Regions from separate parts of the Homo sapiens genome. Here all the other regions are linked to region 1. Evidence: fine-mapped expression QTL. A gene starts in region 1. Each other region holds a variant in brackets. All regions are shown on one strand. Distances are between the middles of the regions. Region 1 holds the start of DOCK2 (dedicator of cytokinesis 2). Region 2 overlaps DOCK2 (dedicator of cytokinesis 2). Region 3 overlaps DOCK2 (dedicator of cytokinesis 2).

Region 1 (4,155 bases):
GGTTGGCACTCAAAGCCCTTCACAATCTAGCCATAATCTACCTCTGAAATTTTTTTAACACTAAAAGCAATACTAAAACCAAAACAGACTACTTATTGTTTGACCCACACACTTCAGGGATGCCAGTTCCCTGCCTTTACCCATGATGTTCCCCTTCTAGATGCTTTTCTGGTGCCATGCAAAGGGCCTAGGGTCTGAAGACAATTGAATTTAAGGCCCGCTCCATTGCTTCCAAGTGATGTAAACTTGGTTACTTCACCTGTAAGTTGGGAATAATACACTGCCTCACATGGGGGTTCTGAAGTCAGACAGAGATTGCATGACCTTTGGTCTTGCAAACCATGAAATACTACAGTCTCATAAGGCATGACTGTCCTGAATCTGGCATTAGGGTGCATCTTGGTGCTGGTGTCTCTTGGTTCTGAAGCTGCTAGGTAAGACCCTGGACCTGAATCACTAACTCTTATTGAGCCAGCACACTACTAAATGCTTTCCATGCATAACCCCATTCAATCCTCACAAGAGTCTCATGAGACCTGCATTATTATTACTTCCACTTTATAGACGAGGAAACAGACCCTGATTTGAACTCAGTTCTGACTTCCCAGTCCAAGCCTCTAGCCTTACACATAACTCCTCAAGGGCAGAAGCTGTATCCTTCCTTACTTTGTAACTGCCCCTTGAGATATGAATTATTATTTGTTCTCTGGATGGGGACCATTTATATCAAAATGACCCCACAGTGCCCGGTACCCAGTAATTGAGTGGATAACTGCTGATCTCTCCAGGGCAGTGTTTCCCAAACAGTGGCCTGGGGACCCCCTGCATCAAATCCCTCTGGGTGTTTGGGTCTTCCAATGCCTCACCTGCGAAATATTTATCTCTGAGATGGTGTCTGGTATCCGCCTGTGTAGGAAGCTCCAGAGTGACTTTTTATTTGATATTTAAGTTTAAAAACCACAGTGAGTCCATGGAGATTGCACCACGGATGACACTTAGAGTAGCAGCACCTGAGGCCTCCCTTCCCCCAGCCACCACTTCCGCCCCTGAGCTCCAGGCAGAGGCTTCTGGGAGTTTAGATGGCTGAGGCTGACGAAGCTAGCTTCTTGGTTACCCTAAGACCACCTGGCGGGAGCCTTTTTCCCCAGAGGCTCTGGGGGGCTGAGTAGAGAACCCCACCGTCCAGCCCCATTCCCCCAAGCTTGAGCTGCCCTCTGGATGCCCTGCCAAATCAGGAGTCATCTGACCCAGGAGGAACAGACAGGGGAAGCAGGCAAATGGGTGTCGCTTTGGAGGGGGTGGAAGTATGCATGGTGGGCAGGCCAAGGCTGAGCCAGGGGAGAGTGGAGCTCCCTCTACAAGGCCAAGTCTCCCACGCGGCGAGCTGGGGCACTCCTGGGGACGCCGAGTTTGGCGCGAAGAACTGAGTTGTCAAGCGCAGGTCTTGACCCTATCTCGGAAATGTCTAAGGTTCCCTCAGCAGGCGAGAGGGCGAGGGCTGTGCTTAGCCTGCGGGGTGGGGTCCCGCCGTCCTCTCCCCGAGCCTCGGCTTTCCCGCCCCGAGGCCCCGCCGCAGGCTGCGCCCTCTGACCTGCAGGCAGCGCGCCCTGCCCACCCCGCGCCGCCGGCCCCGCAGCATCCTCCTGCTCGCGGCTCTCCCGCCACCTGTCCCGCTCCCTGCCGCGCCCTGGGGCCCGCACCTACCCACGCCGTGCCGCTCCTTGTCAGCTTTGCGCCAGGGGGCCATGGCTGGGCCGGGGCCTCGCGTCCTCCCGTGGGGAAGCCGTCAGGGGGTGGCTGGGCGCCGCAGGGCCCCACTTCCTTCCTCTTTTCAAACTCCTCTCAGGGCCCGCCCTCTCCTCCCTCGCCGGGGCTCCCCGCTCCCTCCTCCCTCCCGTTGGGCAGGGGCACACTAGAAGGCTGGTGCCCCGTAGGCTAAGACACGCCACCCCACCCCACTTCACGCAAAACTTGGGGACCACTCCCACTTTGTCTCCTCCCCAGGCGAGGGAGCAGAGGCCAGTCCCCACCTGGGGCTCGCCAGACCACCACCGCAAGTGCAGAGAGTTTCCTGATTGCCGTGCCTAGGGACTGAACAAACCTCCTTAACTCCCCTCAGCATGAGCTTTGGTGTCAGATCTCGGTTCGAATCCAGACGGGGACAAATGACTTCATTTTTCTAAGCTTCAGTTTTCTCATCTGTGAAATGGGATACTAATACCTACTTCATATGATTATTGTGAGGGTTAGAGAGACAATGTACACAGCAGGTGACATGGAAGAGTAAATGTTTACCTGGAGGTGGATCCTTTACAGCCTTTTTTTTTTTTTTTTGTGAGACGGAGTTTCGAGTTTCTCTCTTGCTGCCCAGGCTGGAGTGCAACGACGCGATCGCGGCTCACCGCGACCTCCGCCTCCCGAGTTCAAGCGACTCTCCTGTCTCAGCCTTCCCAGTAGCTGGGATTACAGGCATGCACCAGCATGCCCGGCTAACTTTGCATTTTCAGTAGAAACGTGGTTTCTCCATGTTGGTCATGCTGGTCTCGAACTCCCCACCTCAGGTGATCCGCCAGCCTCAGCCTCCCAAAGTGCTGGGATTACAGGTGTGAGCCACCGTGCCTGGCCCATTTACAGCTTTTTATCGTTTTGGTGCTACAAACCCGTTGGAAAATCTGATGTAAGCTCTAGAAGCTCTACTCTGAAAATACGTAAATACACTATTTACCAACATCACTGCAAGGTGAAGGGTGCTGTCACAGCCAGCAACAGTGGGACCCAGGAAAAGAGCCCTAGAGTTAGGCTAATGGAGACATTTCCTCGAAAAATCTCATTTTTGCTCTGAGAACAGATTCTGTCCAAAAAAAAAAAAAAAAAGTCTGATCCACAGTGATAAGGCTGAATTTAAGTTTTGCTGAGTTTTCTTTCTTTATTCATGACTCTCACTACCCCTTTCTGCCTTACACTGGAGAGTCATTAAGATAGATTAGGCAATATCACAGCTGAACTGGAGCAACAAAAAATTATTGATTTTGTTTTATCTGCAGTTATTTTCTTTTCTGTTTTCTAGCAGCACAAATTAGGTAATAATGTCTTATACAGTCAGCAGTGGTATTAGGGTTCCACCAGATGACCAGAGTAGGAGATTTTATATATATGCATACATATATATACATACATACATATATGCATATATATATACACATACATACATACATATATGCATATATATACACATACATATATGCATATATATACACATACATATATGCATATATATATACACATACATATATGCATATATATATATATATATATACACATACATATATATGTATATGAGAGACAGAGAGAGATTGGGGATTGGCTAATGCGATTGTGGGGCTGTCAGGAAGAGCAGTTTGGAAACTCACAGGCAGATGTCCTCAGGAGGAATTTCTTCTTTTTCAAGGAACCTCAGTTCTATTCATAAGGTTTGTCAACTAATTGGATCACACCAACCAAATGTATTGAGGATAATCTCCCTTAATTAAATTCAATGTATGGTAGATGTTAATCACATCTACAAAGTACTTCACAGCAACCCCTGTGAAGATTGTGAAGATTGGTATTTGATTGAATAACTGGGCCATAGCCTTGCCAAGTTGACTCACAAAACTAGCTATCACAACAATGTTATAAATTGGGACTATACAATAGAGGATGCCAAACATTTTCTGTAAAGTCACAGATAGTATTTTAGTCTTTGCAGTCCAGAAAGCAAAATCAAGTATATATGTAGGATGCAGGTACTTATGTAAAGAAAGAAAAAAGGTTCTAAATTTTTTTTATTAATAAAATTCAAAATATCATGTGAATGAGTATTTTTTGTAATACTAGCTTAGTAAGGCAAAAAAAAATACATTTTGGGAATGATATCACATTTCACCTTATTGGAGTTCAAAGTTAATGTGCCTTATCGAAATTGATTCAAATATTCATATGTTAATGCTGATCTGACAGGATATTTACTTTCTATTTCTGAAAAAAATGTTTACCAAATGGGCAATGGTTAAAAGTCCAGAAAAGCTAATAAAATTAACCTTTGATACCACTGATTCAATAACATCACAGATTTAGATATTTTCCACAAAGTACCTGATGGTGAATATTACAATT
Region 2 (4,277 bases), 400 kb before region 1:
CATGTGGCAGCCATATTACCTATAGTACTTCATTTAATCCTCAAAACAGAAGGTAGGACGGAAACATTCTACAGGTAGGAAAACCTCAACCCAGAAAGATTGAGTAATTTATCCAAGGTTACAGAAAAAGTGAGGCAAGGACCGAGGTCCTTCAGACCCCAAAGCTTTGTGCTGCTACAATAAGGTATGACTAGTGATGTTATAAATATCCCAAACTCAGGACAACCTATAAAATTATTTTTCTCCAAATGATAGCTCCTATTTCTGGAGTAATGCTAAACTAGGTACCTAGATATATCTGCCGTAATAGCAGAGTGAGCGTAGACTTGAAGTTTCTGCCCTCTGACAGAATGTGACAAAAGCCCTGTAAATACCTTGCTCCTCAATCTTCTGGTTGACTCTACCTCAAGGGCTCCAGCCTCATAAGGATGTGCATAAAGGTATACGTCCAAGAATTTTGTTGTTGTGGCCGGACGCAGTGGCTCACGCCTGTAATCCCAGCACTTTGAGAGGCCAAGGTGGGTGGATCACCTGAGGTTGGGAGTTCGAGACCAGCCTGGCCAACATGGTGAAACCCCGTCTCTACTAAAAATACAAAATTAGCCAGGTGTGGTGGTGCAGGCCTGTAGTCTCAGCTACTCGGGAGGCTGAGGCAGGAGAATCACTTGAACCCGGGAGGCAGAGGTTGCAGTGAGCTGAATAGGCACCACTGCACTCCAGCCTGGGCAACAAGAGCGAAACTCTGTCTTTAAAAAAAAAAAAAAAAAAAAAATTTGTTTTTGTGCTTTTTATTGTAGAAAAAGTTGGAAACAATCTAAATGTTCAACAATATAGGATTGGCTATATAAATGATGATATATTCTGGAAAAAATTTTATAGTTTCATTAAAAATGATGTTGATATACATCTGTCAACATGGAGTTCTTGTCAAGTTAGAAAAAGCAAAGAATAAATTACAAGTAATATAAACCCATTTTTGCAAAAAATATGCATGCATAGAATTCAATGTATATATAAATATAAAAAAGTCCTGGAAATATGTATGGATTATGGGAATTTATTTCATTTGTTGTGTTGCTTGCCCATATTTTATAAGTTTATTTTTGTTTTGTAATAAGTATATATTTTTTATTATAAATAAAAGTAACAATAATTTTTAAATTGCAGAAAAAAATATGAGATTCTGAGAAAAACTGGCAAAGGAGTTCTTTGCTTCAGGCTAATGTCCCCAAAAAACCTTCATGATATATTCAAATAATATCATTTAAATGCCTACAAGGATGCAGATATCATGCATCTTAGTATCTTTTTTTTCCCTTCAAAACTGGGCTAGTCAATGGTCTTACTACATGTCTGGACTCAGGCTTCACAGTAATTTATCCAAGGTCAGGCCCGCAACAATGCAAATGCACCCCAACAGTTCAAATCACAAAGTATTCACTCTTAAGGAAAATATGATCTGTGGGAACAACAGGACAGCATGGAAGGCCAGACGATTTCACGTGGTTTTATGGGGCTGACTGTGGGAGAATGAAAGGAATTGAATCTGGAGAAATTGACAGGAATCAGAACACAGAGGGCCTGAATGTCAAGAAGAGAAGTTTAAATTTTATCCTGAAGGCAGCAGGGAGCCATCGATGGATACTGAGCAGGAAAGTGACACAGCAGGTCTGGATTTTAGAAAATATGAATCTTACCTTATGTACATCTCCTCCCTGTTGTTATCTTTGTAGAAATTCTAGGTAGGGGAGGAAAAACAATGATGAGTGTTGTTCTCTGCAATATCACAG[C/A]GGTCAAGGGTGTGGTGATGAAGATGAGAGGAAGATTGCTGTCTAGTATCTGGGTACCCTGAGATAGGAATAAGAAACTTATTTTCCTGGATGCCCCAAAGATGCATCAAACAGCCTAATTGGAAGATTCTGCTTTGAAAGTCACTTCCCTGACCCTTAGACTATAAAGGAACAGAGAGGACTTGATGTGTCTCAGCCATCACATATCAGGAGGGGCAGTTCAGTGTTTTGCTGCATTGAGAGGTGGGCTGCCAAGACTGGGGTAGTCTACTTTAACCAGGCCCACATTGAAAGGCAGCCCAGCTTGATGTTTCAAAGCTCAGGCCTTGCACTGGAAAGAACCTGAGTTGGAAAGTGAGTGGTAGCACCTCGGTAATAGTAAGAGATCAGAATTCCTGATAGTGCAGAACTATCAGGAATTATATGGGATTCTGTCGCCAAAACATTTAAACTTGGCAATACGTAGGAATCTAGGTCCCTATTCCAGCTCAGGGGCCATTTAGATTAGTAGCTGCCCTGGACTTCACCACCAGAGATCCTAATCCTGTGGCATTTTTTAAACAAGTCCCTACAGATTCTGAGCCAGGTGGTCCTGGTCCAATCCATGAGCCACACCAGGTGTATATCCTGGTTTAATGCAGCACACCCACGTGCACCTGAGGGTCAGAGAAGGGTGGTGACATGTTCCAGAGCACACAGTCAATGGGTGGCAAATCATACTGGACATCATTTGTCCTGATACCACCTCCATCCCCACCCTCCTCCTTGACACCATATTTAAGCAATGCACTAAAAACTAGTGGTGTCTCAGTGCTTGGAGAACTGTCTGTCCCAAGCATTCTCCCTGATCTTAGCTGGCTGTTAAAGGTCACTTTCCTCAACCAACTCTGTCTCTCCTTAGAGAGAAGCTGCTCAGCTCGTGGAAAACACCTCTTCATGATCTTTATGTAAACTGGGCCTGGTGGAGTTATTAGCAATGAATTCCTTTCTGCTGTCATCGGGATTTTTAAACTCTCCTTGGCATTCTAGAAAATCAATGGCAATATCTAGGCTGTTGAAAAAAAAAGTCTATTTAGGGTAAAGGGAGGCCACACAACAGAGCTCTGGGGACAGGTTTTGTGTTTCAGGAGCCTTGGGAATGGTAGGGAGGTTGATGTGATGGATGTCACGTGGCCTTTTGGTCAACTTCATTCTTTTAAACCACTTTAAGGTGGGATGACACGGTGAATATGAAGCATTATGGCTGCTTACCTACCTGTCTCCTGGTCGAATCACAGAGCGTGTGAGAGAGGCTGCTTGGCAGCCAGCCCATGGGAGCTCATGGAATATAGGGGTTAAGAACTTGGGTCTGGGGTTAGCTTCTCTGGTTAACCTGGTTCATAGTAACAGCAATTCTAGTTATTAGTGTGACTCCATTCTATAAGAAGAAGGAAACTAATACGTAGTGAGCATTTAACCATGGGCCAGGGCAACACAACCTAATGAAATTGGAACCATTATTTTCTCCATGTAATAGATAAGCAAACTAAGACTTCAGAACATTTCCTTAGCTTGTCCATCCCATTAATTATCAGATATAGGATGGAAACCCAGAGGCTGTGTGACTCCAAAGCTCATACTCTTAGCCAGTCTATACTGTCATCTTCCTTCCATGTGATGTGTTGAGTGCTAAAGGGAATATGCATTAATCTCATGTTATAAATAAGGAGGCAGGCATAGAAAGGTGAAGTGACGGCCTCAAGACACAAAGCTAGCAGAAAGCGCAGCAGACGTTCCATTCCACATTTGTCTGCTTTCCAAAGCCCTTAAGCACTGCTTCCCTATGAAGAACAATCGTGAGACCCAAAGCCAAGCCCAAGCCCCCCCACAGGGTTCTGGTCTGACTTGGACCCGCCAGCCCCACGCACCAGCAGGTTCACGGTGCAGCTCATGCGGTTGTCTTTGCTCTCATCTGTCATCACACCCCGGTAATCCAGCAGCTTCTCCAGGAGGCCTTTGACCAGGTTCACGAAGTTCTCCACCGACTTGGCAATGGTTGGGTGCTCTGCAGCACATTCCATCAGGCTGCGGCAGAGACCAGAGGGCAGTGAGCTCATGGCTGGGGAGAAAGACTGTGCTGGGGCCAGTGGGCGGTGGGATGGAGCACATGCAAAATCAGTCAGTCAACCCAAGTTCCCTGACTGCTCCTTTTGTTCATTTATTCATGTATTTATCCATATAGTGCAGCAATTTTTTTTCTAACATCAGAATGGGAAAAAATAAAAATAAAATAGTTTCCAATATAGATAATGATGGTGGGGGAGATGGTCACTTTTACCCACCCCTGCTGAGAATAAATCAAGAAAACTTTTTTGGGGAAGCAATTTTCAAAGTATCTGTAAAAATTGTAAATGCACATATCCTCTGACCCCACAACTCTACTTTGCAGAATCTGTTCTACAGAAATATTCTCAGAAGTATGCAAAGATATAATACTCACAAATGTGT
Region 3 (4,277 bases), 290 kb before region 1:
TCATATGCTCTTACGCCACTTTATCTCACTATATAGCAGTTATCGCCACTGGATGTTGTATCTTCTTTGTTTACTGCATCTGTGCCTAACTCCCCACTAAAATATAAGCATCATGAGGTCAGGACTCTGTTGGGCTTATGGCTGTATTCCTAGCACCTAGAGCAGTTCCTGGCAGGCAGCAGGCTCCAGAGGTATTTGTTGAATACATGAATGAGTGAATGAATGCATGATATTTTCCCTGACCCACAGTGAAGAAAGAGGAACATAGAGAAGGGCAGGCAGGAGGGAAGCAGTTCAGAAGGCTATGATCCCTGGAGGAAGGATTCCTGTTATTTCTGGGGCTAGCTGGGAATTGTCCTCTGGGCCACTTGGCTGTGCTTCCATCTCCTGGAAGCACAGTGCCAGCCACCTTCTCCCATGTGAGCTACTGTGCTAGGAACTTCACCTTCCTCACTTATAACCCTCACCACCATCTCACACAGCAGCATTAGCCCAGTTTCACAGACAAGGAAGCAGGCTCAGAGATCTTGTGTCAGTTTGCCAAAGTCAAACAGCGAATAAGTAACTGAAATGAAATTAAAACCCGAATTGGTCTGACCTCCCACCCCAAAACAACTTTCCACAAAACGATACCACCTCATAAAATAACCACATCTAATTTTATATGCCAGGAACTTAGTGCACTTGGATAGGTGGAAAGAGTTTCTTCAAAGAAGTCTGAGGGTTCAGGCGAACGGGAGAAGTGTTCAATTGCCGAGAGGCGGCAATATCAAGGCAAGCCCTTTGAGAGACGCTGGTGTTTGTGTTCTTCCCACTGACCCACTGTTGGAAGTAAGACCTGTACTTTGATGGCTTTGTCAGCAACTGGGCTGGGTTGAGCCAAGCCTTCCTCACTCTCCTGGTCGTCTTTGGGATGCACATGTATTTGTAAGATGGTTTCCTAGAGCTGGGCTCTGTAGGAAGGTAACTTTCATGACTCAAAATATCCCAGACAATGCTTAATCCTAAGATCAAGGGTGTTAGTAGCATCATTAGTTTGGCCAATGAGTCAACCAGTCAAGCAAAGCCACTTTATCTTTACCTGGAGGAAAACAACTTCCCACAAATCCACTTTTCCTAGCTTAGAAACTCCCCTCTGTCTGGCACACACATGAGTACCTGCCATGGCTGTGCAGGAGCACCTTGTAAAAGGGACTGGCCCATGACATGTGATGAGGATGCTTTTCCTTGGGACAGGTATCCTTTATTGTATTTATGTGTATGGCTAATTTGTTGTGAATGTGAGAAGAAAATGAAGTGCAACCCCCAATGAAGAGCTGAAAGCATAAGAAAAGAAACCAAGAGAGATGGTTTCTCAACAACCTGGAAATGGAGGCTCACCCACAGTGCCTTCCACCCGACTCTCAAAGGGCGAAGATGTAGACTGCAGTGAGAGAAGCAACCCTTCTTGAAATTAATAATTCAAGGTAAAATTACAAAACTTAATTGCTCCCTGTCAGCCGCAGCTCATCCTTGTCTACCGTTATTTTGCACAAATTGATTTGGCAGCCACCACATTCATTTTTAAAGGACTTTCTTATTATCTATAGCCTGTTAATATGTTCATTCTTCACCCTTGTAAGTAATTCCAGGCAGATTTTTACTCATTTACCATGAATGAAGCTCACATTTCAGAGGAGAAGGGAAATTGTCCAAGAAATGTCATCCCAGAGGACACACATTACCCTAAGAGGCTCTGAGGTCCCTCGAGCCCAGACAACCCCAGTCGTGAGTGCATAAGGAGAACTAAAGCCAGAGTGTCTTCTGAAGTCCTGCTTTAACCATCACCCATATGTGGTTATTTAAATTTAAATTAGGCCAGGTGCGGTGGCTCAAGCCTGTAATCCCAGCACTTTGGGAGGCCGAGGC[A/G]GGCGGATCACAAGGTCAGGAGATTGAGACCATCCTAGCCAACATGGTGAAACCCCCATCTCTACTAAAATGCAAAAAATTAGCTGGGCATGGTGGAATGCACCTGTAGTCCCAGCTACTCGGGAGGCTGAGGCAGGGGAATCACCGGAACCCAGGAGGCAGAGATTGCAGTGAGCTGAGATCGTGCCACTGCACTCCAGCCTGGTGACAGAGCAAGATTCTGTCTCAAAAATAAACAAAATAAATAAATAAATAAACAAATAAAGTTCTATTCTTCAGTCACATTAGCCCTATTTCAATGTTTAATATGTTTAATATGCATATGTTTAACAGGCATGTGTGGCTAGTGGCTACCATATTGGAGCACAAAACAAGGAGCACAAAACAAGATTTCTATCCTCATATAAGGGTCTATAGGAAAGTGCTAGGTCAAGCTTTCAGACTCCAGCAGGATAGCTTCTTTCTCTCTCTCTCTTTTTTTTTTTTTTTTTTTTTGAGACAGGGTCTCACTCTGTTGCCCAGGCTGGAGTGCAGTGATCCCCTCTTGGCTCACTGTGACCTCCATATCCCAGGCTTGAGTGATTCTCCTGCCTCAGCCTCCGAGTAGCAGGGACTACAGGCATGTGCCACCACACTCAGCTAATTTTGTTGTTGTTGTTGTTGTTAGAGACAAGGTTTCATCATGTTGCCCAGGCTGTTTTCAAACTACTGGGCTCAAGCAATCCTCCCCCCTCAGCCTTCCAAAGTGCTGGGATGACAGGCATAAGCCACCACACCTGGCCACAGGATGACTTCTTACCATCTTATCTCATCCCATGGCAAGATAAGCTAGGAGTTCTGTATATCGTTTGCCGGGATTCGCTTTGTGGAAAATCTACGTGTAAAAAGCTATGGGATTTGTCTGAGTCTTACCCATGTGAGATGAACTTGTTGGTGTCAATGGGGAAAGGAAAGAGAAATGTTTACCATATGGCCAAGGATGGTGGAGGAAGAGATTGGAAAATACTGGCCCTTGGGGCTTTGGCTTATAAATGTGTCATGACTTGAACTTGAAAACACCTTTAACCCCCTGCTATGCCTAAGTGCTATGTGCGTGGGCTTCCTGCATAGGCACTCTGGTTCCCTTTCAAGGCAGGGCATGACAGAACTTCAGTCTACCTGGCCAGCTGTGGGCCCAGGTTGACCTCAAGCTTTCCATCTGCTCTTCTCAGGGCACAAAGATGAACAGAACACATAGCTCCTCCTCATCCTACATGTTTGGCCTTTTAGTCTATCTCAAAGCAAGCTTTGGCATAATTAATAGCGCAGTTATCTGCTAATTATTCCACTATTCAAGCAGGAACAGAAACACCCAGGGCATAGAGTGAGCATCATGTGCACAATTAATAATTTTCATCACTGAGTAATTACTTGTGTAGTATTTAACCTAATAACATTAGATCTGCATTATTGGGCTGTGGTTGCTATTTTCTTCCACCCACTCATTCCTGTATAACTGTTCTCTATGAAGGTGTCATAACTTGTTGAGAAATCATATTTTTTTCTAATGCTTTACGCTTCAACAGTTTGGATGTATTTAGATCTCTCTGCCTCTTTTAAAAGTTTGTCTCCTGCTAGGCCTCCATGACACTGTCCTTTCCATGCTTTCTTGGCCTCTCTTTTGGATGGACGATGCTTCATGTCACTCACTGGTTTTGGCCTCCTGCTCAGCAAGGTTACTCCCGTAACTTGGATTCACTCTCAGCAGCACTGATGCATGGGGAAGCGAGGAGGCTGGCTCTGGTAGAACTAAGGCTGGGGAACCTGCCTGACTACGTGAAAACAGCGGGGCATTCTGGGGCAGAGCAGTGCAAACCCAGACCTGGTTCATTCAGGTGGAGATAGGGCATCCCTGGTAAGGCAGCACTGCCACTGGTCAGAACAGGGCAAGAACAGACTGGGCAAGAACAGGCTGGCCCACCGAGGGCCATCTGGTGTAAGACCTGTGGCAGCAATAACTGTAGACCCCTCCTGCTGGTGCATTGAGGCTGCTGTCAATATTGGTTTGGCCTTGGGTGGGGCAAGTCAATGAGGTGGCTGATCCTGAGTTGCAGGGGGAAGGGTTTGGCTGGGAAGGCCTGAAGGAACCCCAGGTTGACAGTATCTTATCCTGCTTCTGTGGACTTTCTCCCTGATATTTGTACCCTCTCTACCACCTGTTTAAGAAAAAATGCATACACACACATGGATCTGTGAGTTAATTCCCACACCTACTGAAACCCAAGGAAGATTCCTGCTGGTTATACCATCTCATCATCCAGCCCTGAATAAAGAATTTTTCGGGCCGGGAGCAGTGTCTCATGCCTGTAATCCCAGCACTTTGGGAGGCC

What was found. PIP is the estimated chance that this variant, and not a neighbour inherited with it, causes the effect. A credible set is the group of variants that fine-mapping cannot tell apart.
Region 2: its variant is the best candidate, but not a certain one, in a credible set for the expression of DOCK2 in whole blood (TOPMed, PIP 0.60).
Region 3: its variant is the best candidate, but not a certain one, in a credible set for the expression of DOCK2 in whole blood (INTERVAL, PIP 0.86).

What each region holds. Positions count from the first base shown.
Region 1 is chr5:169,634,919-169,639,073 of GRCh38, reverse strand. DOCK2 (dedicator of cytokinesis 2) reads right to left here and starts at 1,799. Exons shown (of 52, transcript NM_004946.3): 1 at 1,705-1,799. The coding sequence starts at 1,747. RefSeq lists an enhancer at 1,002-1,101 and silencers at 1,362-1,421, 1,452-1,931.
Region 2 is chr5:170,033,976-170,038,252 of GRCh38, reverse strand. DOCK2 (dedicator of cytokinesis 2) reads right to left here. Exons shown (of 52, transcript NM_004946.3): 35 at 3,698-3,854; 36 at 1,698-1,738. Among named protein-coding and RNA genes, the nearest start is that of MIR378E, 7.6 kb to the right of the region's middle. The variant C/A (reference allele first, on the strand shown) is at 1,791.
Region 3 is chr5:169,927,868-169,932,144 of GRCh38, reverse strand. The region is part of intron 27 of DOCK2 (dedicator of cytokinesis 2); the gene reads right to left. The region is part of intron 1 of INSYN2B (inhibitory synaptic factor family member 2B); the gene reads left to right. Among named protein-coding and RNA genes, the nearest start is that of INSYN2B, 50 kb to the left of the region's middle. The variant A/G (reference allele first, on the strand shown) is at 1,909.